Regions from separate parts of the Homo sapiens genome. Here regions 2 and 3 are each linked to region 1. The links come from fine-mapping of genetic effects on gene expression. A gene starts in region 1. Each other region holds a variant in brackets. All regions are shown on one strand. Distances are between the middles of the regions.

Region 1 (8,185 bases):
TTCAACTCTCATGTCTATTTAGACGCAATTGGAGTCCCACTGGGAATACCAGATCAATTTAAAGCCCAAAATCAAATAGCTGCAGGATTTCAGCCAGTATTTTGGTAAGTTACAATTAATAAAAATGTAGGTTTGATAAACTACATTTATTGCAACCAACAGCGATTTATTAACTACCCTAGAGATGCTGTTAAAAGAATAGCTGAGCAATTAGGGGCTACTAGCCAGATGGCTTGGGAAAATAGGATAGCCTGAGACATGATATTAGCAGAAAGAGGAGGAGTTTGCATCATGATTAAAACTCAGTGTTGTACCTTCATCCCAAACAATACCGCCCCTAATGGAAGTATAACAAAGGCATTGCAAGGTCTGACTGCTCTGTCCAGTGAGTTAGCCAGCAACTAAGGGTAAATGGGCCCTTTACAGGATGCCTAGAAAAGTGGTTTGGTAAATGGAAAGGAATAATAGCCTCAATTCTTAACTTCCCTTGCAGCCGTAATGGGTGTACTTACTCTTGTTGGGTGCTGTATCATACCATACATCTGTGGGTTGGTGCAGAGGCTCATAGAAATGGCACTTACTAAATCCTCCCTTAACTATCCTCCACCTTATCCAGAGAAGCTTATTCTTTTGGAAAATCAAGCAGAACAACTAAGCCAAGACATGTTAAAGAAGTTTGAAGAGAAAGAGCTGTAAGGAAATGCAAGAGGAGGAGTTGTTAGATATGAGTTCTAAATTTCTTTTAAAAGAATCAGTATGTCAGTGTATTCAATTCTTTGCCTTCTACTTTGAAACTTAACTTCCTCGTAAAGCAACCTTTTCCGATTACCTGCTCCACCCTGTCTCATTCTGATTACCTGCTCATTCTCTACCCTGGCTCATTCCGATGTCCTCTCTGTCATAACCATTTTTCCTGCCAAACCACTCACCCTGTCACTCTCTTTAAATTAGCCAACTGGAATTAGTTTAACCTGTGTGGACTAACCCTAGGCAATAGGGGAATGACACAGCAGCAGGGGCCACATGCATCAGGAATAAGGACCCCTTCCCCTCCCTTGTCCGGGTGTGCGCTCACCATTGCTCCATCTGTGAGAGTGCAACCTTCTATAGAAGTAAACTGCGTTGCTGAGAAGAAAAAAAAATTTTATATTCGAGTGCTATTTCTTCTGTGGCACCAAAACTTTATTTATAACAGAAACCAAGCTGTCAGAGCTCTGGAACCATAGCTGTCTGCTAGGTGTCTCTAGCCATAGTTTTGCTTCCCCTTCACAGATGCAGTTTGTCTAAAATTGAAGCCATAACCCCTCCAAAGCCACTCTTTCTCCACTATTTATTTTGATGAATGGCCCATCGTAATCTAGATTTTCAAATCAAAATATAGGATTATTTCAGTTGCTCTTTTCTCATATCTACATCTAATTAATCAAAAAGACTAGTTCTGAAGCAGGAAATTTTCCTGACCCCTTCATGGGTGGGGGCAGGAACTGGAGCACATAGGATCTAGAACTAGCTGGCCGCTTTGGGTCTGGCAGGGGTGGACTCCATTCACTGGGTCCCACTGCGTTCCACAGGAACGGGGAGCACAGGTGAGTGGGTGCAGGAGCTGGGGCCAGTGCATGCAGGAGCAAAACTCTATGTGGCCCTTGGCAGTGTCTAGAGGGGTACCTAAGGCCCCTGAAGCCCCAGAGGGTGTGTGTTACAGTGCTCTTTTAACTTTGCCATCCACTGATGGCTTAAATGTTAAACAGCTCAGTAGGCCCTCTGTTTTTTGGTGTGAGGCACTTGCTCTCTGCCAGTGAGGGCAGAGGGTCAGTGTGACAGCCTTTAGTGTCACACCTGTGGCACCTGAGCTCTTGTTTGGCATCCAGGAAAAATCAGGTCACAGGAACAAATTGAATAATGGTGAATGCAGAGGATTTTATTGCCGATGAGAGTGGCTGTCAATGGGAAGGGGAGCTGAAAAGGGGATGGAGTGAGAAGGTGATCTTCCCCAGGAGCAACGCCATTAAGCCATACCTCTGAAGTCGAGCTGTTTCTTCTCTCCTCTCCTCTCTGCCATTGGAGCCTGGGGTTTTTATGGGCACAGGATGGGGGGCAGGGGGACCATAGGTGGTTTTGGAAAAGGCAACATTCAAGAGGGAAAACAGGGATGCATGTTCTCACTTTGGGCTGTGTTTTCAGGCTTGAGGTTGGAGCCCTCACTGGGGACCTGCCCTCTTCTGCCCAGAATTTCCCTGCCTTCTATCCCTGTCAGTTCCATTTGCAAATACAGTTTATCTCAACATTTCTTCTTCAACATTTCCTCTGCCTTACTTCTGGTTTCCATAATTTCCCCCAAATCTTTTCTATGTTCTCCTTGCCCACCTCTAATTATTGGGGGAACCTGCCCCCAATATTTCAACATAGGTTCTTTCTATTTTCCATAAGTGTCAGTCAGCTGAGAAATAGAGAAAGAGTACAAAGGGAGGAATTTTACAGCTGGGCTGCCGGGGGTGACATCACATATCAGTAGGACCGTGATGCCCACCTGAGCCTCAAACCAGCAAGTTTTTTATTAAGGGTTGCAAAAGGGAAGGGGGTGTAAGAACAGAGAGTAGGTACAAACATCACATGCTTCAAAGGGCAAAAAGCAGAACAAAGATCATATGCTTCTGAGGGAACAGGACAAAGGGCAAAAGCAGAACTACTAATAAGGGTCCAACAAAGATCACAAGACAAAGGGCAAAAGCAGAGCTACTGATAAGGGTCTATGTTCAGCAGTGCATGTATTATCTTGATAAACATCTTAAACAACAGAAACAGGGTTCGAGAGCAGACAACTGGTCTGACCACAAATTTACCAGGGCCGGGTTTTTCCCCACCGTAGTAAGCCTGAGGGTACTGCAGGAGACCAGGGCATATCTCAGTCCTTATCTCAACCACATAAGACAGAGCAGCCGTTTATAGACCTCCCCCCAGGAATGCATTCCTTTACCAGGGTATTAATATTAATATTCCTTGCTAGGAAAAGAATTTAGTGATATCTTCCCTACTTGCACGTCCGTTTATAGGCTCTCTGCAAGAAGAAAAATATGGCTGTTTTTGCCCAACCCCGCAGGCAGTCAGCCCATATGGTTGACTTCCCTTGTTCCCTAAAAATTGCTGTTATTCTGTTCTTTTTCAAGGTGCACTGATTTCATATTGTTCAAACACACATGTTTTACAATCAATTTGTACAGTTAACACAATTATCACAGTGGTCCTGAGGTGACGTACACCTTCAGCTTACGAAGATAACAGGATTAAGAGATTAAAGTAAAGACAGGCATAAGAAATTATAAAAGTATTATTTGGGAACTGATAAATGTCCGTGAAATCTTCACAATTTATGTTCCTCTGCTGCGGCTCTAGCAGGTCCCTCTGTTTGGGGTCCATGACTTCCCGCAACATCCAATCAATCCTCCATAATGGGCAAAGTGATCTTTCCATAGTGTAAATGTGTTCCCACCACTCTCTGGAGTAATCCTACTTAAAACCGTTTTCAGCACAAAATTCAAACATCTAAACATGATCTTGCTGGCTTTGCTTTTGTGGCTTTACCCTCTTTCTCCCCAAACCTAGCTAGTGTTTGTGCTGCCTGTAATGCCCTTCTTTCTTTGCAGGGGTCGCCACTTTAGGTCCTGGTCCTCCTTCAGAAAGTTTTTCCTCTTTCTCCCCAGCGGGGATAGGGTCTGTTTATTTTGACACCATTAGCTCACTTACACACATTGGTCACAAGTCTAGGCTGCACCGTTATTGAAAGTTTACCATCTGACTCTGAGTAGCTTGAGGATCCTATCAAAACTCAGGAGATGCTCAGTAAATGTTGATTGAACTATGACTGTTCTCAACATACAAACGCAAGATCATTTAGGAACACTTGTCAAAATGTTTTTGCCCCTTGAGATTCTATTTTGGGAGGTAAGCAGTGGGGGTCCAGGACTCTGCATTTTGACAGTCCCCTGATGTTTGCATGTAGAAGTGCAGGGATTATTACACTGACAAATCTTTACCATCCCTAAGGGGGACTTTCCTTCCCAGGGGCTATCTCTGGAAGCCCCTCAAGGATAGGGGCCGCATGCTGTTTCTCTAGGTCAGCAACTAAACCCAGAAAACGTTTATTGAGTGAATGATGAAACGACAGGTGAATAGATGAACGCAAGGTGTCGAGTTAACTATTCTTCTACACAAGTCCTAGCAGCTCCCATTGCTTCCAGCCGCAGAAATGGCCCCTGGAAGGCAAGTCTTCCAGCGAGTGGAGTCACTCTTAACTACATTTCCCAGGATTCCAAGGGAGCCGCGCGCTCTGCGCTCATCTTCCTACCAGAAATCGGCAAGTCACTGACCCTCGTCCCGCCCCCGCCATTCCCCGCCTCCTCCTGTCCCGCAGTCGGCGTCCAGCGGCTCTGCTTGTTCGTGTGTGTGTCGTTGCAGGCCTTATTCATGGGCTCACCGCTGAGGTTCGACGGGCGGGTGGTACTGGTCACCGGCGCGGGGGCAGGTGAGCATGCGAAGGTTGGAGGCCGCGCCCCTTGCTGAGGCGCAGCTGGCTGCTCTTTTCGGGCCGGCATACGCGCGCAGCCGCAGCTGAGGTCACCCCGCTGAGGTGGTGGGGAGGGGAATGGTTATTCTTGAGGCACCGCATCTCTTGAGGAGGAAAGAGCCGGAAACACCTGGTCTCTCAAGCAGGTACAGCCCGCTTCTCCCCAGCACCCCGGTGTGGGCTTCCCAAGGTCCTGCCTGAGAGGAGAGGCCAGGCTGGGCTGCTGATTGCAAAACTGGGTGAAAGTTCTCCCTGACCCTTATCTGTGGGCATCGATTGTTACTCTTCCTGCAATTAACTCTCTTAGATCTTTGCCTAGTCTTTTAAAGGACTGAAAAGCCGCGAGGGGCGGGGGCTGGAATTCGCCCCCTGAAGCGCAGAGATGTCAGCTCCTGAAAAGTCATTCGGTCGTTCAGTGTTTGTTTCCCTCTGTCGTAAGATTTTAAGTTCGTGAGAGGACCTTCTTTAAAGAGGGCGTCTGATAAGAGCCCTTCCCCGTTGGAGTTTGTATGCTTAGCAAGTCACAATCTGTTCTCGAAATCCACTGGAGTCTTGGCAGAGGTTGTAAGCTCAAATGCGCACAGGGGTCAGGCGTATGATGGAGAAAGAAAATGGGAGTAGGATGGGCACATCTGAGGAACTGGAGAGCAGAGAATTCCGAAGTGGACCGGCCAGTGGGAAAGTTGCCTGTATTTCAGGAGCGGCAAAATGGAAAATTGTTATGTGAAATAGCCCCATTTTTTAAAGTACAAAAAATTAAAACAAACCATTCATACCAACATAGATGCTGTGCAGTGAGATTTTACATTAGTTTCTCACCAGTGGGTGACCTCTGTAACCTCCAAGTGCAGGGATCTTGACATTATGCACCTTTGATTCTCCACTGGTAGTACCTTATACCTGGAAAGGCCCTAATGCATGAATTATTTGAGTTATATATTAAACGTTACAAACTGGAATTCTGTCAATTAATTCCTATGTACTTTCATATCTGTATTGATAAAGTGGCTTCTTATGCTGCCTTTCAGAAAATGCTTTCAGTGTTGATGAATAGCCAAGTATTTTATACCCATAGCTGTCTGGTTATCTCTGCATGGGCATGTATTTGGGTGTAGTCATACCTTCTAAATGTTTTTAGGAAAACATTTTGTTTACACTTTGCTTTTATTGTAAATAATGTATTTTACAACGCTTGGTGTTTTAAATCTTTTTTGACAGCTCTTGGATAATTTTCATGCAGGAGGTCCAGGGATTACATTCTAAGACGTTTTTGCCATCGCTAAGGAGACTTTCCTTTTCAGGGGCTATATCTGAAAATCATTCAAGGATAGGGACTGCTTCTTTTGACACCATTAGCATACTTACACATGGTATGCAGTACATTTTACACCAGTACTCAGTACACTTACACAAGCACATACATCTGTATTTAAAACCAGTTCATGATATAGTGTGTAGTACAGGCAATGCATCCTGAAATTTATTTTCTATTCTGTTTTATTTATAAATTGTAATTGTAACCCACAAAATTGATTTTGTGAAACAATGAGTTGTGACTAGACAGTTATGAACTTAGCACCTGCTGTTCATAAACTGGTTAAATTCTCTCTTACCCATTCAGAGTTGATTAAATTTTTTTTTTTTTTCAGAGCTAAAGGTTTTACTCTGTACCCAGGCTGGAGTGCAGTGACCCGATCATGGCTCACTGTAACCTTGAACTCCTGGGCTCAAGTGATCCTTTTGCATCAGCTTCCAGACTAGCTAGGACTGTAGGCATGTGCCACCACGCCCAGCTAATTTTTAAATGTTTTCAAGAGATGGAGTCTCGCTTTGTTGCCCAGGCTGGTCTCAAACTCCTGGCCTCAAGTGATCCTTCTGCTTGGATTAAATTCTAAAATAAGTTATTTGGTGAAATTTCCTAGTTTTGGAAAACTGTATATTTTTGGTTCTTTTTGTTTTTGTTTGAGAGGGAGTTTTGCTCTGTTGCCGAGGCTGGAGTGCAGTGACATGATCTTGGCTGACTGCAACCTCTGCCTTCCGGGTTCAAACAATTCTCCTACCTCAGCCTCCCAAGTAGCTGGGGGTACAGGTGCACACCACCAAGCCCAGCTGATTTTTGTGGTTTGAATAGAGACGGGGTTTCACCCTGTTGGCCAGGCTGGTCTTGAACTCCAGACCTCAAATGATCCGCCCACCTCTGTCTCATAAAGTGTTGGGATTACAGATGTGTGTCACTACTCCTGGCCTTGGGTTGTTTTTGGAAGGGGCTAATAATTTATGTATCTCAGTTTGTTATTTGTATACTTATTGATTAATTTATACTAAATATAAATTGTTAATTAAATTTATTCATTTGTCAATGAAATTTATCAATTAACTTAAAATGTAAAAAATATACACATATTAAAAAATGTAAACAATACAGAAAAACAATCCAGAAGTAAGCCTTCCACCCCTTATTGCTAGCCACATAGTTCTGTCCTCCAGAGGTAACCACTAATTGCCAGTTTCTAATGTGTTTTTCCCGAGATACTCTATGCCTATAAAACTTCTCTCTTGGCTGGGGATGGTGGTGGCTCACGCCTGTAATCCCAGCACTTTGGGAGGCCGAGGTGGGCTGATCACGAGGTCAAGAGATCGAGACCATCCTGGCCAACATGGTGAAACCCCATCTCTACTAAAAATACAAAAATTAGCTGGGCGTGGTGGCGGGCGCCTGTAGTCCCAGCTACTCGCGAGGCTGAGGCAGGACAATCACCTGAACCTGGGAGGTGGAGGTTGCAGTGAGCCGAGATCATGCCACTGCACTCCAGCCTGGGCGACAGAGTGAGACTGGATCTCAAAAAAAAAGAAAAAAAGCAAAACTTTCTCTCTCTCTCTCTCTCTCTCTCTCTATATATATATATATAATTTCTTTTTGGATATATAAATTTACACCTTGTAGCTTTGAGTCAGAATTAAATATTTTCTGTATTTGATGACTGTGTAGTCAGGGTTCACTGTGGGATACAGAAACCACTAGATATTTTAAGCAGCAAAGGATTCAATACAGGCAATTAGGTTTTAGGCAGGTCTTCTTAGAATAACTCCTGAAACAATAGGAAATTGATCCATTAGAGGAGGCAATACCTCTGAGGCTGTCATTGGAGCTGTGCCACAGCCCAAGTAGCACTGGCACTAGGGACCTGAAGTATGGAAGCTGCCATCCAGGGATTAGGGAGCTGAATGAAGAAGTCGCTGCTATAGTCAGTTTCTGAATACCTAGGAACTTTCAAGAAAACTAGCTTCTTAACAACAACAGCCAGAACTCCCAGTAAGGTGGTCTCTGTCTCACTTACACCTTCTAAGTTTTATGCAGATGCATCAGATGGTGGAACCCAATTCACAGCATCCTAGCAGCTAAGTAGAATGGTAGGAAGTGGTAGTAGAATAGGTGGAAAAATACAGTTTTAAGCTTTCCAGCCTCTGCAAGCAGAAGAGAGTGGATAGGTTGAGAATGTCAGTGATAGGATAGGTTGAGAGTATCATTAAAATGTAATTAATTGTTCACCAATTTCTTTAAATGGGGATTGAGTTGAGCGGACCAAAAAAATTATGCTGACATTTCTTCAACTTTCTGATTAT
Region 2 (8,185 bases), 33 kb before region 1:
TGCTCTCTCATTTTCTCACCTTGAGTTGCCAGTTGCAGGCTGTGAGTGGCCTTATGGAGTGGTCCAGGTGGCAAGGAACTGATGTCTCCAGCCAACAGCCAGAAAAGACCCGGGGTCTGCCTATTGCCACAGAAGTGAACTCAGAGTGGGTCCTCCCCCAGATGAGTCTTGAAATGATTGCAGTTGAAGTGGACACCTTGATTGCCTTGTGAGACACATTTTGAGAGACTGCAAGCTTTAGGTATCTGGCTAAGCTATGCCCAAATTTCCAACCCACATAAACAGAGATAATAAAGGAGTGTTTGTGATGTAAGTGTCTAGGTTTTGGAGTGATTTGTTAAACAGCATAATAACTAATATACCTGTGAAGCCACCTCTCATATCCAAATGTTGAAGAGATTCTTTAAAACTGAGATTTAGATGAGAAAGACTAAACCGATAGTTTATACTATGAACTCTATGCATAATTAAGCATAAATATATCCAATCATCTATGAATATAAGTTATAATCACTGTGGTGTTCTAGAGTAAACTCTCCCTCCTTATGTAGGAAATTAACCTTTATTGAGCAGTTAGTATTTACTAGGCACTTAAATTATATCTTTCAGAAGGGGATTAGAGTAGGTCAATAATTTATACACGTTTATATAGATAGGGAAGGTGTTGAAATTCAAACTGAGGTGTGACTTTTAAGTAAAAGTAACTTGTATCACTCTTTCCAGAAATTTTCTTGCATTTTCTGATTCTATATTCTTTGCTCATCTATGTTAAATACTTAGGCCCCTCCCACGGTCTACAGTGGATGGGCTACTGCTTTGAATCTGAGTTGCTAATGCTAACTCCAAAGAGTTGTCATGCTGTCTATTTACAATTGTAAAAAGCTAGTTGCAGTGCAAATGTATTGTCTGTGCAAAACAGTAGTCCACTTTTTTTTTGAGGAATTTCTCCACGTTTTTGTAGGAGCTGACAGTCTTAGATCTTGCCCTAAAGAATTAGCTTATGACGGCCAGATGGGGTGGCTCACGCCTGTATTCCCAGAACTTTGGGAGGCTGAGGCGGGTGGATCATGAGGTCAGGAGATCAAGACCATCCTGGCTAACACAGTGAAACCCTGTCTCTACTAAAAATACAAAAAATTAGCCAGGTGTGGTGGTGGGTGCCTGTAGTTCCAGCTACTCGGGAGGCTGAGGCAGGAGAATGATGTGAACCTGAGAAGCGGAGCTTGCAGTGAGCTGAGATTGCACCACTGCACTCCAGCCTGGGCGACAGAGTGAGATTCCGTCTCAAAAAAAAAAAAAAAAAAAAAAAAGAATTAGCTTATGACTCAGCATTGGCTTGCCAAGACACTCCTTGGCCATAGTGATTGTATTCCAGCGAGACACTAAACAGACAATTTCTCTAGAATTTAAAAAAGTAAACCTGCTAAGGTCCTCATGATCCTCGGGAAGTTGTAGATAGTTTCCTGGGGTCTGGTCTTCTATAGTATAGAATGGATCACAGGACAATAGCAAACCTTCAAATACGTATAAAGCAAAAAAATGGAAAGAATAACAAGAGATTTAGAAAAACCCTGAATCATAGTGGGGTATTTTAAACATATTTCTGTCAGTAACTGATAGTGCAAGCAGATAAAATATCCATAAAGATACAGAAGACTTGAACAATATGATCTACAAACTTGACCTAATGACCACATATGGAACCCTGAGCCCCAAACTGCAAATACCCATTCTTTTCAAGTATACATGGAATCCCTGTTAAAATTGACAGTATGGTGGATCATAAAGCCGGCTTCCCTATATTTAAAAGGCTTGAAATCAGGGAATGTTTTTTGATAATAATGCATTAAGCTCAAAATCATTGACAAAAAGATGACTAGGAAATTTCCTTGTTTGATTTTAAGAAGATAACTTGTAAATAACTCATGCATCAAGAAAGAAATGTTAGAAGTTAGAAAACATTTTAAACTGGAAAACTGCAAAGTTTTCTAGGAAAGCATGATAGAAGGAAAAGAGAAGCAAGGCTGTAGATTGTAATGGTGGGTCATAGAGTCTAAGCAAGACAAGAAAGTAAGACAGAAAAGGGTCTGGGTATTAGGAGCGCCAAGGATGCACTGGAGGTCATGGTGCTGGAGACTTCTGCAGTGGGAGCACTTGTGCTAGAAAGGCAGGACATTCGGACATGAGATTTCAGAAGTGGTAAGGTTCTTGGTAATGAACACATTCAGGGTTGTGAGTATGGGCGAGAGTGCTAGCAGTTGTTAAATTTAAAAAGTCACTGGAAATGAGAGCATTAACTAGGATACAAAGTATTGGATGGGTCCAATTCAGTGGGTCCAATGCACATTGATTCTGAAGTCCCCAAGCAGAATAAAAGCAGTTGAGGTGGAGCGCAAGACAGCAGGAAATAAACTAAGTGATAAAAGAGGGGTTGTGAACAGGAAGTTGGAAGACTGAACGTAACAAAATGTGAAAGTGGGTGGTAAATCCCAAGTGGCTTAAGTGTCAAAGGAATAGGTGAATGAGGTAAGCCAGTTTTACTCCTAATTAACATTTCACTGGGTACATTCTGTAAAGAGAGACAAATGCTGGCAGTAGCTCAACTTTACACTGAAAGTGGTTTTCATAGTTTATACAACGCACAGATCATCCACGGCTTTCCAGTTAGAGAAACCAGCTAAGTTCTTATTCCTAAATTGCATTTTCTCAGCCTCAGCATGCAGCTTTATTTAGCATGCTTCTCCTCAGTACTCCCAAATTCTCTGCTTCCTAAGCTGATTAGCTTATTATGCAATACACATGGCTGCTTGTGGTTTCTCTAAGGGAGATACACATCATACAACTCAGGCTACACAAGCTGCCCAATATTGTGTTTTCTTTAGCATGGTGCATCTGCTTGTAATTGAGTAGGTTTTACGCTATGCAATACATGGTATTTTAAGGAGCTTAAATTGTTTTTTTAAAATTATTCATTTGTATAATTACACAAGTACATTTTCATGTGAACAAAAAAAGATAAAGTGAAAGTCTCTTTCATCACTGTCATGATCCCGAACATATCTCCAGAACTAACCACCGTTATCAGTTGGTATGCCCCTCCCTGGGCTTTTCTCTAGGCACATACATTCTTATAAGTATATGTAATGAAATTTGTGGTTTTACATATCAGATTATTTTACTCCCTGGCTTTTCAAGGGATTTCTATTATAATTAGAAGAAAATCCATACTTGTAACTATTGCCTACAAGGCTCCACACAATCTGGTCCTTGCCCACTTCTTTGACCTCCTCATGTACCAGGAAGTCAAGGTGTTTTCCCCACAGAGCTTTTGCATGTGCTTTTCATTCTGCCCAGAAGGGTCTGTCCTAATGCTTGCTTGACTGGTTCCTTGTTGACATTCAGGTCTCAGCTCAAAATTCACCTCCCTGTAAGCCTTTCCAGGATACCTTCTGTAGATTTGTACCTCCCCTCCCTGTCTC[T/A]GCTTCCAGTCTCTTTTGAATAGAATTATCCAGTTTTAGGCAAAAATCACTGGGGTTTGAATTCTCACTTCACTCTATGCTAGCAGTTATTTAACCTTTTTGTGGAAGGGTTTCTCATCTGAAAATGAGGATAATTATAAAATCTACTTTTTAGGTCGTTATGAAATCAGATAAGTTAATATTTGTAAAATACTAAGAAAGTGCCTAGAAAATAATGACATCTGTTAAATTAATAAATATCTTCCCTTAGCACTTACAGTTATCTGGAATTATTTATTTGTAGTTTATCAACTCTTTTCTCTCTAGAATATAAGATCTATAAATGCAGGGACCTTGTCTATTTTGTTTGCAGCACCAAGAACAGTGCCTGACCCATAGCAGCCCTGATATGGTTTGACTGTGTCCCCACACAAATCTCATCTTGAATTGTAGCTCCCATAATTTCCACATGTCGTGGAAGGGACTTGGTGGGAGATAATTGAATCACAGGAGCAGTTTCCCCCATACTGTTCTCCTGGTAGTGAATAAGTCTCACGAGATCTGATGGTTTTATAAGTGGGATTTCCCATGAACAAACTCTCTCTTGCCTGCCGATTTGTAAGATGTGATTTTGCTTTTCATTCACCTTCTGCCATGATTGTGAGGCCTCTCCAGCCACGTGGAACTGTGAGTCAATTAAACCTCTTTCCTTTATAATTACCCAGTCTGGGGTATGTCTTTATTAGCAGCATGAGAACAGACTAACAGAGTAAATTGGTACCAGTAGAGTGGGGCACTGCTGTAAAGACACACGAAGATGCGGAAGCGGCTTTGGAACTGGGTAACAGGCAGAGGTTGAAACAGTTTGGAGGGCTCAGAGGAAGACAGAAAAATGTAGGAAAGTTTGGAACTTCCTGGAGACTTGTTGAATGGTTTTGACCAAAATGATGATAATGATATAAACAATGAAATCCAGGCTGAGGTGGTCTCAGATGAAGATGAGAAACTTGTTGGGAACTACAGCAAAGGTCACTCTTGTTATGCTTTAGCAAAGAGACTGGTGGCATTTCGCTTCTGCCCTAGAAATCTGTGGAACTTTGAACCTAAGAGAGATGATCTGAAATTGGAACTTATGTTTAAAAGGGAAGCAGAGCATATAAGTTTGGAAAATTTGCAGCCTGACAATGAGATAGAAAAGAAAAACCCATTTTCTGAGAAGAAATTCAAGCTGGCTGCAGAATTTGTGTAAGAAATGAGGAACCAAATGTTAATCACCAAGAGAAAGAGGAAAATGTCTCCAGGGCATGTCAGAGGTCTTCACAGCAGCGTCTCTCACCACAGGCCTGGCAGCCTAGGAGGAAAAACTGGTTTTGTGGACTGGGCCCCGGGTCCCTCTGCTGTAGGCAGTCTAGGGACTTCATACCCTACCACACAGTCGCTCTAGCCATGGCTAAAAGGGGCCAAAGTATAGCTTAGGCCATGGCTTCAGAAGGTGTAAGCCCCAAGCCTTGGCAGCTTACACATGGTATTGAGCCTGAGGGTGCACAGAAGTCAAGAATTAAGGTTTAGGAATGTCTGCCTAGATTTCAGAAGATGTATGGAAACTCTGAATGTCCAGACAGATGTTTGCTGCAGGGGTGGGGACCTCATGGAGAACCTCTGCTAGAGCAGTACAGAAGAGAAAATGTGGGGTTGAGGCCCCACACAGAGCCCCCACTGGGGCACTGCCTAGTGGAGCTGTGAGAAGAGGCCACCGTCTTCCAGACCTCAGAATGGTAAGTCCACTGACACTTTGCACTGTGTGCCTGAAAAAGCCACAGACACTCAATGCCAGCCCGTGAAAGCAGCCAGGAGTGGGGCTGTACCCTGCAAAGCTGGGGCAGAGCTGCCCAAGACCATAGGAACCCACCTCTTGCATCACCATGACCTGGATGTGAGACATGGAGTCAAAGGAGATCATTTTGGAGCTTTCAGATTTGACTGCCCCTCTGGATTTTGGACTTGCATGGGTTCTGTGGCTCCTTTGTTTTAGCCAATTTCTCCAATTTGGAACAGGTGTATTTTCCCAATTCCAGTACCCCAATTGTATCTGGGAAGTAACTAACTTGCTTTTGATTTTACAGGCTCACAGGCAAAAGGGACTTGCTTGTCTCAGATGAGATTTTGGACTGTGGACTTTTGAGTTAATGCTGAAATGAGTTAAGACTTTGGGGGACTGTTGGGAAGGCATGATTGTTTTTTGTTTTTTTAAGATGGAGTCTCACTCTTTCACCCAGATTAGAGTGCAGTGACACTATCTCAGCTCACTGCAATCTCCTCCTCCCAGGTTCAAGCAATTCTCCTGCCTCAGCCTCCTGAGTAGCTGGGACTACGGTCATGCACCACCATTCCTGGCTAATTTTTGTATTTTTAATAGAGGCAGGGTTTCACCGTCTTGGCCAGGCTGGTCTAAAACTCCTATCCTCAGGCGATCCACCTACCTCAGTCTCCTAAAGAGCAGGGATTACAGGTGTGAGCCACCACACCTGGCTGGTGTGATTGGTTTTGAAATGTAAGGACATGAGATTTGGAAGGGGCCACGGGTGAAATGATATGGTTTGGCTGTGTCCCCACTCAAATCTCATGTTGAACTCTAGCTTCCATAACTCCCATGTGTCATGGGAGGGACCTGGTGGGAGATAATTGAATCATGGGGGTGGTTTTCCCCATACTGTTCTCGTGGTAGTGAATAAGTCTCACAAAATCTGATGGTTTTATAAATGGGAGTTCCCTTGCACAAGCTCTCTCTTGCCTGCCGACATATAAGATGTGGCTTTGCTCCTCATTTGCTTTCCACCATGATTGTAAGGCCTTCCCAGACATGTGGAATCATGAGTCAATTAAACCTCTTTCCTTTGTAATTACCCAGTCTTGGGTATGTCTTTATTAGCAGCATGAGGACAGACTAATACAAGCCCTTAATAAATAAAGGCTGAATGTATGCATGATGAAATCTTACCTCCTGCATAGGGATCTGTGTGCCCAAGAGATAAGTTTAAAATGGAAAACATGGTACTGCTTTTATTAAAAACACCACTTTATAAAAATGTGGAAATGTTTATTTATTTTATTTTATTTTACTTTAAGTTCTGGGATATATGTGCAGGATGTGCAGGTTTGTTACACAAGTATATGTGTGCCATGGTGTTTTGCTGCACCTGTCAACCCGTCCTCTAGGTTTTAAGCCCCACATGCATTAGGTATTTGTCCTAATGCTCTCCCTCCCCTTGCCCCCCATGCCCCAACAGGCTCCAGTGTATGATGTTTCCCTCTCTGTGTCCATGTTTTCTCATTGTTCAGCTTCTACTTATGAGTGAGAATATGCAGTGAAAGCATCACTTTTATACACTAGTCACCACTGGATGCTATCACCGTATCTTGTGCTGTTATACTAGAATGAATGCTAGCTCCTCTTGCACCTCCAAAGTGGGATGAACTCAACTGCAATTCTCTCACTTGTCTTACTTTTCCAAAGAGCACAGGATGCATAAGACCAGTGTAGCAGCAGCTACACACCCACAATACTTAGGAAACATGAGCAGCAGTTATCACAAGCAAAAATGATATTTCCCAGATCCCAGCACAATTTAGATCTTTATTGCAGTTGCCAGCCAAGCGATTTAGGATAATTTGCAGAATGGAGAAAACAGAAAAGCTTGTTTGAGCTTGTCAGGTTGCTTGCCAGGTTACCAGTCATACTGTGCCAGTTGGCCAGGGTCTGTGAGCCTAAACTCAATTGGGAAATATCTTGTGTAATAAGACTAGTTGTGTTTCTATGTACTCTTTTTTTCTTTTTTTTGACAGAGTCTTGCTCTGTCACCCAGGCTGGAATGCAGTGGCATGATCTTGGCTCACTGCAAGCTCCACCTCCTGGGTTCACCCCATTCTTCTACCTTAGCCTCCCGAGTAGCTGGGACCGCAGGTGCCTGCCACCATGCCCAGCTAATTTTTTGGACTTTTTAAGTAGAGACGGGGTTTCACTGTGTTAGCCAGGATGGTCTCGATCTCCTGACCTCGTGATCCCACCTCGGCCTCCCAGTGTGTTGGCATTACAGGTGTGAGCCACCGCGCCCGGCCCACTGTGTTGTACCTTTTGTTACCAACATAACAAGGTTTCAGAGGCCCAGTTAGGGTGCAATGACATTTGCTAGGCATCGATTAGTAACACTGACTTTGCTACTCCAAAGGATGCTTAAAAATTTCCTTCTTGCTAACATTTTCTTGCTACAGCAGGTTCAACCTGGATCATCTGTCCAAGGCTAAGGAATAAGATAAAGGAGAAAAAAATCAGAAAAAAAAATCTATGAGATTTCCACCTAGTAAGCTGAGCTTGAGAAAAAGAGCAAGTCTAAGCTCTGTTCCTGGCTCTAGCAATGGTTCTACAGTTCATGCAAAATCCAGCTGCCGTTGCAGTATAGAGCCCCTTAGAAAGCTTCTTGTGACCCCAGGAAAGGAATTTCTATCTCCATTCAAGACTTGATCCTGACTTATGCAATATGAGTTCCTGGAAAGCCTATGTTGATCCCCAGATGGATCCATTTTCTTATTAAACTCAGATACTGTGGTTTAAAAATGCTAAAGCATACTTTTGGCCTGCATAGCTGCCATCTAAAGACAGCTGCAGCTCAGTGACAGCTCAAATCAGCCATGGTAAATACAAAAGTTTTCATCTCTCCTTGCCATATTTT
Region 3 (8,185 bases), 100 kb after region 1:
CGCCAAGTACCTGGACACCCTCCACTGGTAACAATAGTACAACGTTAATTATTCAGGAGGTGGTTATAGAGGTGCTTAGTGTAAAATTCTTTCAGGTTTACTGTATTTTCAAACATTTTTGCAATTTAAATATTGGGAAAATACAATAGTGACATAAAAAAAGAAAATTCAACTATATGCTATAAAATAATACACACCTAAAGCAGAATGACGGAGAAAGATTTTTCACTATAGGAAAAATGTATCCCAACACATTATGTCGTTAGCAAAGATTACCGTGGCAGTTAGGGTATGGTGATTATAGTGGAGGGGAGAGGAGTGGAGGGAGAAAGGGAGACCAAGCAAAAGGAGAAGGAAAAAGGTATATTAACAAAGCTTGCATATTATTACATTTATTTTATAAAATTATGTCTGCATACGGGAATATATGGAAATGGTATAACACTGCAGGATACAGTTAAAGCAGTAATCAAAGGAAAATTTCATAGTTTAAAATTCTTATACTAATTATAGGAATATAAATAAATGAATTAAGCATTCAACTTAGTAAGTTAGAAAAACAACAAACCCAAAGAAAGCGGAGCAAAGGAATTATTTATAATAAAAGCAGAAAAAGAAGAGAGTTGAAAATAAAAAATCTAGCGTAAATAAATAATTAAATGAACAAACAAATCAACAGGCTGATCTTTACAAAGTGTAATAAATAGCTAACTCACAATCTTACCTAATTAATTTTTAAAAAGGAGAGTATTTTGCTTAACTGTATGCCAATGAACTTCAAATGCTGTATAAATTTAATGATTTTTTTACATCATTGACACAAAATAGAAAATCTAAACAGATGGCTTGACATAAAAGAATTTGAGGCTGGCCATTGTGGCTCGCACCTGTAATCCCAGCACTTTGGGAGGCTGAGGTGGGAGGATCATTTGAATCCAGGAATTCAAGACCAGCCTAGGCAACATAGTGAAACTCTTTTCTCCAAAAAATGAAAAAAATTGCCAGCCTGGCACATGCCTGTAGTCCTAGCTACTGGGGAAGCTGAGGCAGGTGGATCAATTGAGCCCAGGAGGTGGAGGCTGCAGTGAGTTGTAATCATGCCGTTGCACCCCAACCCATGATAGAGTGAGACCCTGTCTCAAGAAGAAGAAAAATAGAATTTGAGAAAGTTTGAGAAACGACTATTCTCCCTGAGTTCCTAAGCCTCAGATTCACATGTGAATTCAGCCAAACCCTTAATGAACAGAAAATGCCAATCTTACTTCTGTTGTTCTGGAGGGCACGGAATGAGAGCTGCCATGTTTGTCCATTAAGTTGATATAATAACAATACTAAAACTTCAAAGGTGACAGAATCAAAAGAAAGTATGGACTAATGGCCTTTAAAAAAAGTGTCTAATAGCACATTAAAAGCGTACCCCTTATGGTTCAATATTAGAAACTCCATTAATAGGATTAATCACATTAATAGATTGCGATGCAGAGTACTAACCGCTATTTGATCATGGTGAGCTACTGGGGACAAGGAGAAAAATTTATATTATCTCCATAGATTTGGAAAAAGCACTTAAAATTCAGCATCATTTGCTTTTAATTTAATTTTATTTTAAGTTCTGGAATACATATGCAGGACGTGCAGGTTCGTTACATAGGTAAACATGTGCCATGGTGGTTTGCTGCACCTATCAACCCATCACCTAGGTATGAAGCCCAGCATGCATTAGCTATTTTTCCTGATGCTCTCCCTCTACCTGCCTCCCCTGACAAGCCTCAGTTTGTGTTGTTCCCCTCCCTGTGTTCATATGTTCTCATTGTTCAGCTCCCACTTACAGGTGAGAACATGCGGTGTTTGGTTTTCTCTTCCTGTGTTATTTGCTGAGGATAATGGCTTTCAACTCCATCCATGTCCTTGCGAAGGACATGATCTCATTCCTTTTTATGGCTGCATAGTATTCCATTGTGTATATATGCCATATTTTCTTTATCCAGTCTATAATTGATGGGCATTTTGGTTGATTTCATGTCTTTGCTATTGTGAATAGCGCCGCAATGAACATAAATGTGCACAGATAATAGAATGATTTATATTCCTTGGGGTATATACCCAGTAATGGCATTGCTGGGTCAAATGGTGTTTATGGTTTTAGGTCTTTAAGAAATCACCACACTGTCTTCCCCTATGGTTGAACTAATTTACGCTCCCACCAACAGTGTAAAAGCCTTCCTATTTCTCCACAGCCTCCCCAGCATCTGTTGTTTCTTGACTTTTTAATAATCACAATTCTAACTGTTGTGAGATGGTATCTCATTGTGGTTTTGATTTGCATTTCTCTAATGATCAGTGATGCTGAGCTTTTTTGCATGTTTGTTGGCCCCATGTATGTCTTCTTTTGAAAAGTATCTATTCATATCCTTTGCCCACTTTTTGATGGAGTTGTTTTTTTCTTGTAAATTTGCTTAAGTTCCTTATAGATTCTGGATATTAGACCTTTGTCAAATGGAGCGATTGCAAAAATTTTCTCCCATTCTGTAGGTTGTCTGTTCACTCTGATGATAGTTTCTTTTGCTGTGCAGAAGCTCATTAGTTTAATTGGATTCCATTCATCAATTTTTACTTTTGTTGCAATTGCTTTTGGTGTTTTCATCATGAAATCCTTGCCTGTGCCTCTGTTCTGAATGGTATTGCCTAGATTTTCTTTAGGGTTTTTATAGTTTGGGTTTTGATATTTAAGTCTTTAATCCATCTTGAGTTGATTTTTATATAAGGTGTAAGAAAGGGGTCCAGTTTCCATTTTCTACATATGGCTAGCCAGCACCCCCAGCACCGTTTGTTAAATAGGGAATCTTTTCCCCATTGCTTGTTTTTCTCAGGTTTGTCGAAGATCAAATGGTTATAGATGTGTGGTCTTATTACTGAGGTCTCTATTCTCTTCCATTGGTCTATGTATCTGTTTTGGTACCAGTACCATGCTGTTGTGATCAGGTTCATGTTTGCCTTGTAGTGTAGTTTGAAATCAGGTAACATGATGCCTCCAGCATCTCTTTGCTTAGGGTTGTCTTGGCTATACGGGCTCTTTTCTGGTTCTATATGAATTTTAAAGTAGTTTTTCCTAATCCTGTGATGAATGTCAATGGTAGTTGAATGGGAGTAGCATTAAATCTATAAATTACTTTGTTCGGTATGACCATTTTCACAATATTCATTCTTTGTATCCATGGGCATAGGATGTTTTTCAATTTGTTTGTGTCCCCTCTTATTTCAAAGCAAATACTTATTACAAAGCAGTGCTTATTACAAAGCAGTGCTTTGTAATTCTTCGTGAAGAGTTCCTTCATATCCCTTGTTAGCTGTATTCCTAGGTATTTTATTCTCTTTGTAACAATTGTGAATGAGAGTTAAGTCATGATTTGGCTCTCTGCTTGTCTTTTGTTGGTGTATAGGAATGCTTGTGATTTTTGCATGTTGATTTTGTATCCTGAGACTTCGCTGAAGTTGCTTATCAGCCTAAGGAGCTTTTGGGCCGAGACAATGGGATTTTCTGATATATGATCATGTCATCCGCAAAAGAGAGAGTTTGACTTTCTCTCTTCCTATTCGACTCCTTCCTTCCTTCTTTCCTTCCTTCCTTCCTTCCTTTTTTCTCTTTCTTTCTTTCTTTTTCTTTCT[C/T]TCTCTCTCTCTTTCTTTCTTTTCTCTCTCTCTCTTACTCTCTTTCTTTCTTAGTGTCTCACTCTGTCATCCAGGCTGGAGTCCAGTGGCATGATATTGGCTCACTGCAACCTCTGCCTCCTGGGTTCAAGTGATCCTCCTGCCTCAGCCTCCTGAGTAGCTGGGACTACAGGCATGTGCCACCACGCCCAGCTAATTTTTGCATTTTTGGGAGAGACACGGTTTTGCCATGTTGCTCAGGCTGGTCTTGAACTCCTGGGCTCACGTGATCTGCCCACCATGGCCTCCCAAACTGCTGAGATTACAGACATGAACTACCGTGCCCATCCTGAATACCCTTTATTTCTTTCTCTTGCCTGATTGCCCTGGCCAGAACTTCCAATACTATGTTGAATAGGAGTGGTGAGAGAGGGCATTCTTGTCTTGTGTTGGTTTTCAAAGGGAATGCGTCCAGTTATTGCCTATTCAGTATGATATTGGCTGTGGGTTTGTCATAAATGTCTCTCATTATTTTGAGATACGTTCCATCAATACTTAGTTTATTGAGAGTTTTTAACATGAAGAGATGTTGAATTAGGCCTTTTCTGTGTCTATTGAGATAATCTTGTGGTTTTTGTCTTTAGTTCTGTTTATGTGATGAATTACGTTTATTGATTTGCCTGTTGAACAAACCTTGCATCCCAGGGATGAAACCAACTTGATCGTGGTGGATAAGCTTCTGGATGTGCTGCCAGATTCGATTTGTCAGTATTTTTTGCATCAATGTTCATCAGGGATAGTGGCCTGAAGTTTTCTTTTTTTGTTGCTGATAAAGACATTTAATGTGATAGGTATAAAGGGATACTTCTTTAACCTAAGTTGAGTGATTGTTCTATCTCTCCCTTGTCCTTTAATGGTAAAATACAAAGGACATTTCATTATAGACAGGAAGATAAGTCCACTGTCACCACTACTATTTAACATTGTCCTCGTGGCACTCGTGAGTACAAGTGGGAAAGGGAAAGGAAACAGATATATAAATAGACATGTACTAAAATCAGAGTCAGGGATTGCACTGAGTGATACAAGCATGCTGGAAAGCCTGAGTCAGGGATGGTGTTCAGGGACCCTAGGGTACTGACACATGAGGTTGTGTTCTAACTGATATATTTGTTAATATTCTAACATTCTATTACATGATTTCTCTTTCTTTTCTTTTTTCTTTCTTTCTCTTTTTTTCTTTTTCTCTCTTTCTTTTATACAAACACAATTATTTATTAATCAAAGCCATATTTCTATGGCTATATTTACATGTAATAAAGGGATAAAGCATGGACTGGAGAGGGTTCTAATTAAACCAACACTTTGAAATAGTTGCATGTAAAATGTTTTTGATAAAGGTAATTGAATACAGTAATGACAAAAAAAGCAGTAGTAAGGGGATTTGTCCATTGAACTGAGCTTGTTCATTCTGATAACTAATTCTTGTCCAAAGTGATGATGGAGTTTTTATTCTACTTTTTCATAGATCTGAGTACAGGTGACATTGTTTATGATGCAGTCCACCACTAATTTCCTGTCTTTCAATTTTCTTATTTTGCCTTCCTTTCCATTCCACTTCTGATGTCGAACCAATGTGCCATATGTAAAGGTGCAGTCTGAGTTTTTCTGCCGTCACCTGTAGTTTCTTTGAATTTCCCTCCCCTGAGTGTGAGAAAACTGTATGATTTTAAAGTACTCTCCATTTTTATGGTGAGGTTTTTGCCATCAAAAAAGCTAATACAATCTTTTTTGGCCATAGCACCCTTTTTTTCGCAGAGGGCTAGTCCCACTCCTAGTTCCTTCATGTATTTATTATTCATCAAAGCCTTTGCTGTCCATCAGGTGCCCTCTTTCTTCCAGTTGCTGAACAGTGTCCATGGTGGGTGTCAGAAGGTGTGTGGAGTGAGCAGAGCAGGGTCCAGCATGGGAAACATGCTGTGCCCTCTTACATGATGTTATAAGGAAAGAATAGAAGGGCAATGGCATGACAAGAGTGTGGCTGTGTCCTCAGATGCTTCAGGATCCTTCCTGTGTGGACTCTGTCCCTGGATATGGTGCCCACCTTAGGGAGCTAGAGGCTGGGAAGAGGTCCAGCAGTCACCTGCATCTGCTACTGTTCTGTGTGGACACTTTGATCCTGTTAGTTATTATATAGTTATTTCTTGTTTAATTAGAAGGCAAATATTCCAGTTTCATAGTAGACATGTTTGTGGTCCTAAATATATAACCAACTAAAACACAATTGTTGGCCAAAATAAAAAAAATCACTCCAGAAATGTGTAGAATGATGCAATTCATGTAAAAATTTAAAAACATTATACTTTCTATGGCTATATTTACATGTAATAAAGGGATAAAGCATGGACTGGAGAGGATCCACACCTGCTTCATGAGAGTGGTTGCTTCTGTTGAATGAGCGTGCAGAAGTTATCAAAGATGATTTCGGTGTATCTGTAAGGTTTCATTTTCTTCATCTAAACTATATTCATTAATTTAACTTTTTGCTTTGATTTTATTTCTTACATTTCCTTTATTCATGTTTCATTTGGAATCTTTGTCCCTCTGTATCATATAGGTAGAAACCCTCTGTATCATAATAATTTGATTATTTTTACTTCATTATCTATCACTTTAATAATGGTCAACAGGGGCCTGACAGAGGAGCTGAGGTAGCTCCCACCCTTCACCCTGATAAAACCTCAGCACATCTCACTGAGAGCTCCCCCGGCCACCTTCATCAAGCCTGGGACCTCTGCCAACCATTGGGTATTACATCTACACATCTGCCTTAGCTACTACCAGTGCTTACCCAAGGACACCTCCCCTAATTGGTCTAAAGCCTGAATCATCAACTCAGTAAATAAAATACTGGGGAAAAAGTAAATAAATAAATAAACTGTATACCTTGAGAGAATGAGATAAGCTTCAAGAGATCCCTGCCATTCCAACCCTATAGGAGACAGTGAACTTGCCCATGCACCAAGTATATAACTACTACAACCAGCATCTGGGAAAGCCAGTGCACAAGACTCTCTGTAACTAAGGAATTCATATAGAGTGTTCACTCTTAAAAGCACCAAGAATCAAATTAGGCTAAAATAAACTATAAGCATTAAAGTCATATGCTTAAAAAAACACAGTCCAATTAAAAATAAATTCAAGAACAATTTGAAGAAATAGTCTACCCAAGTGAGAAGGAAGCAGAAAAGTAAATCTGGCTAATATGACAAAACAGAGTTCTATAACACCCCCCAAAATATCACACTAGCTCTCCAGCAATGGATCCAAATCAAGAACAAATCTCTGAAATGCCAGATAAAGACTTCAGAAGGTTGATTATTAAGCTACTCAACGAGGTACCAGAAAAAGGTGAAAACCAACATAAATAAATTTAAAAAGTCCAGGATATGAATGAAAATGTTTCCAGAGAACTAGATATCATAAAAACAATCAGAACTTCTGGAAATGAAAGACACTCTTAGGAATATATAAAATGCAGTAGAAAGTTTCAAAAATAGACTAGAACAAGAAGAAAAAGGAAAGTCAGAGCTTGAAGACAAGGCATTTGAATTAACCCAATCAGACAAAGAAAAAAGAATTTTAAAAACTGAACAAAGTCTCCAAGAAATATGGGATTATGTAAAATGGCCAAACCTAAGAATAATTGGTATTTGTTTTTTTTTTTTTTGAGATGGAGTCTCGCTCTGTCGCCCAGGCTGGAGTGCAGTGGTGTGATCTCGGCTCACTGAAAGCTCTGCCTCCCGGGTTCACGCCATTCTCAGAATAATTGGTATTTCTGAGGGAGAAGAGAAGTCTAAAAGTTTGGAAAACTTATTTGAGGGAATAATTGAGGAAAACTTCCCTGACCTTGCTAGAGATCTGGACATGTAAATACAAAAAGCTCGAAGAACACCTAGGAAATTCATTGGAAAAATATCACCATGGCACATAGTCATCAGTTTATTTAAAGTTAGGACAAAGGAAAAAATTTTAATAATTGTGAGACAAAAGCATCAGATAATCTATACTGGAAAACCTGTCAGAGTAACAACAGATTCCTCAGCAGAAACCTTATAAGCCAGAAGGGATTAGGGTCTTATCTTTAGCCTCATTAAACAAAATAATTTTCATCAAGAATTTTGTATCCAGCAAAACTAAGCTTCATAAATGAGCAGAGATAAAGTCTTTTTCAGACAAACAAATGATGTCAAACCCGCACTACAAGAAATGCTAAAAGAAGTTCTAAATCTTGAAACAAAAGTTTGAGATACACCAAAATAGAACCTCCTGAAAGCATAAATGTTATAGGGCCTATAAATTTACATTCAATGTTAATATTGAGATGTGAGGTGCTATTCTATTCATCATGTTACTTGTTACCTAGATACTTTGTTTTTTTCATTGTATTATTTTTGGGTTATGATTGGGTTAATTCAAACACCTTGTCTTCAAGCTCTGACATTCCTTCTTCTACTTGTTCTAGTCTATTTTTGAAACT

What was found.
Region 2: its variant is fine-mapped to the expression of HSD17B4 in whole blood (TOPMed, PIP 0.98).
Region 3: its variant is fine-mapped to the expression of HSD17B4 in lung (TOPMed, PIP above 0.99).

What each region holds. Positions count from the first base shown.
Region 1 is chr5:119,448,115-119,456,299 of GRCh38, forward strand. It overlaps HSD17B4 (hydroxysteroid 17-beta dehydrogenase 4), which reads left to right and starts at 4,383. Exons shown (of 24, transcript NM_000414.4): 1 at 4,383-4,519. The coding sequence starts at 4,462. RefSeq lists an enhancer at 4,484-4,533.
Region 2 is chr5:119,415,581-119,423,765 of GRCh38, forward strand. No RefSeq gene overlaps it. Among named protein-coding and RNA genes, the nearest start is that of HSD17B4, 33 kb to the right of the region's middle. The variant T/A (reference allele first, on the strand shown) is at 3,480.
Region 3 is chr5:119,550,094-119,558,278 of GRCh38, forward strand. It overlaps the pseudogene FABP5P6. Among named protein-coding and RNA genes, the nearest start is that of FAM170A, 75 kb to the right of the region's middle. The variant C/T (reference allele first, on the strand shown) is at 3,667.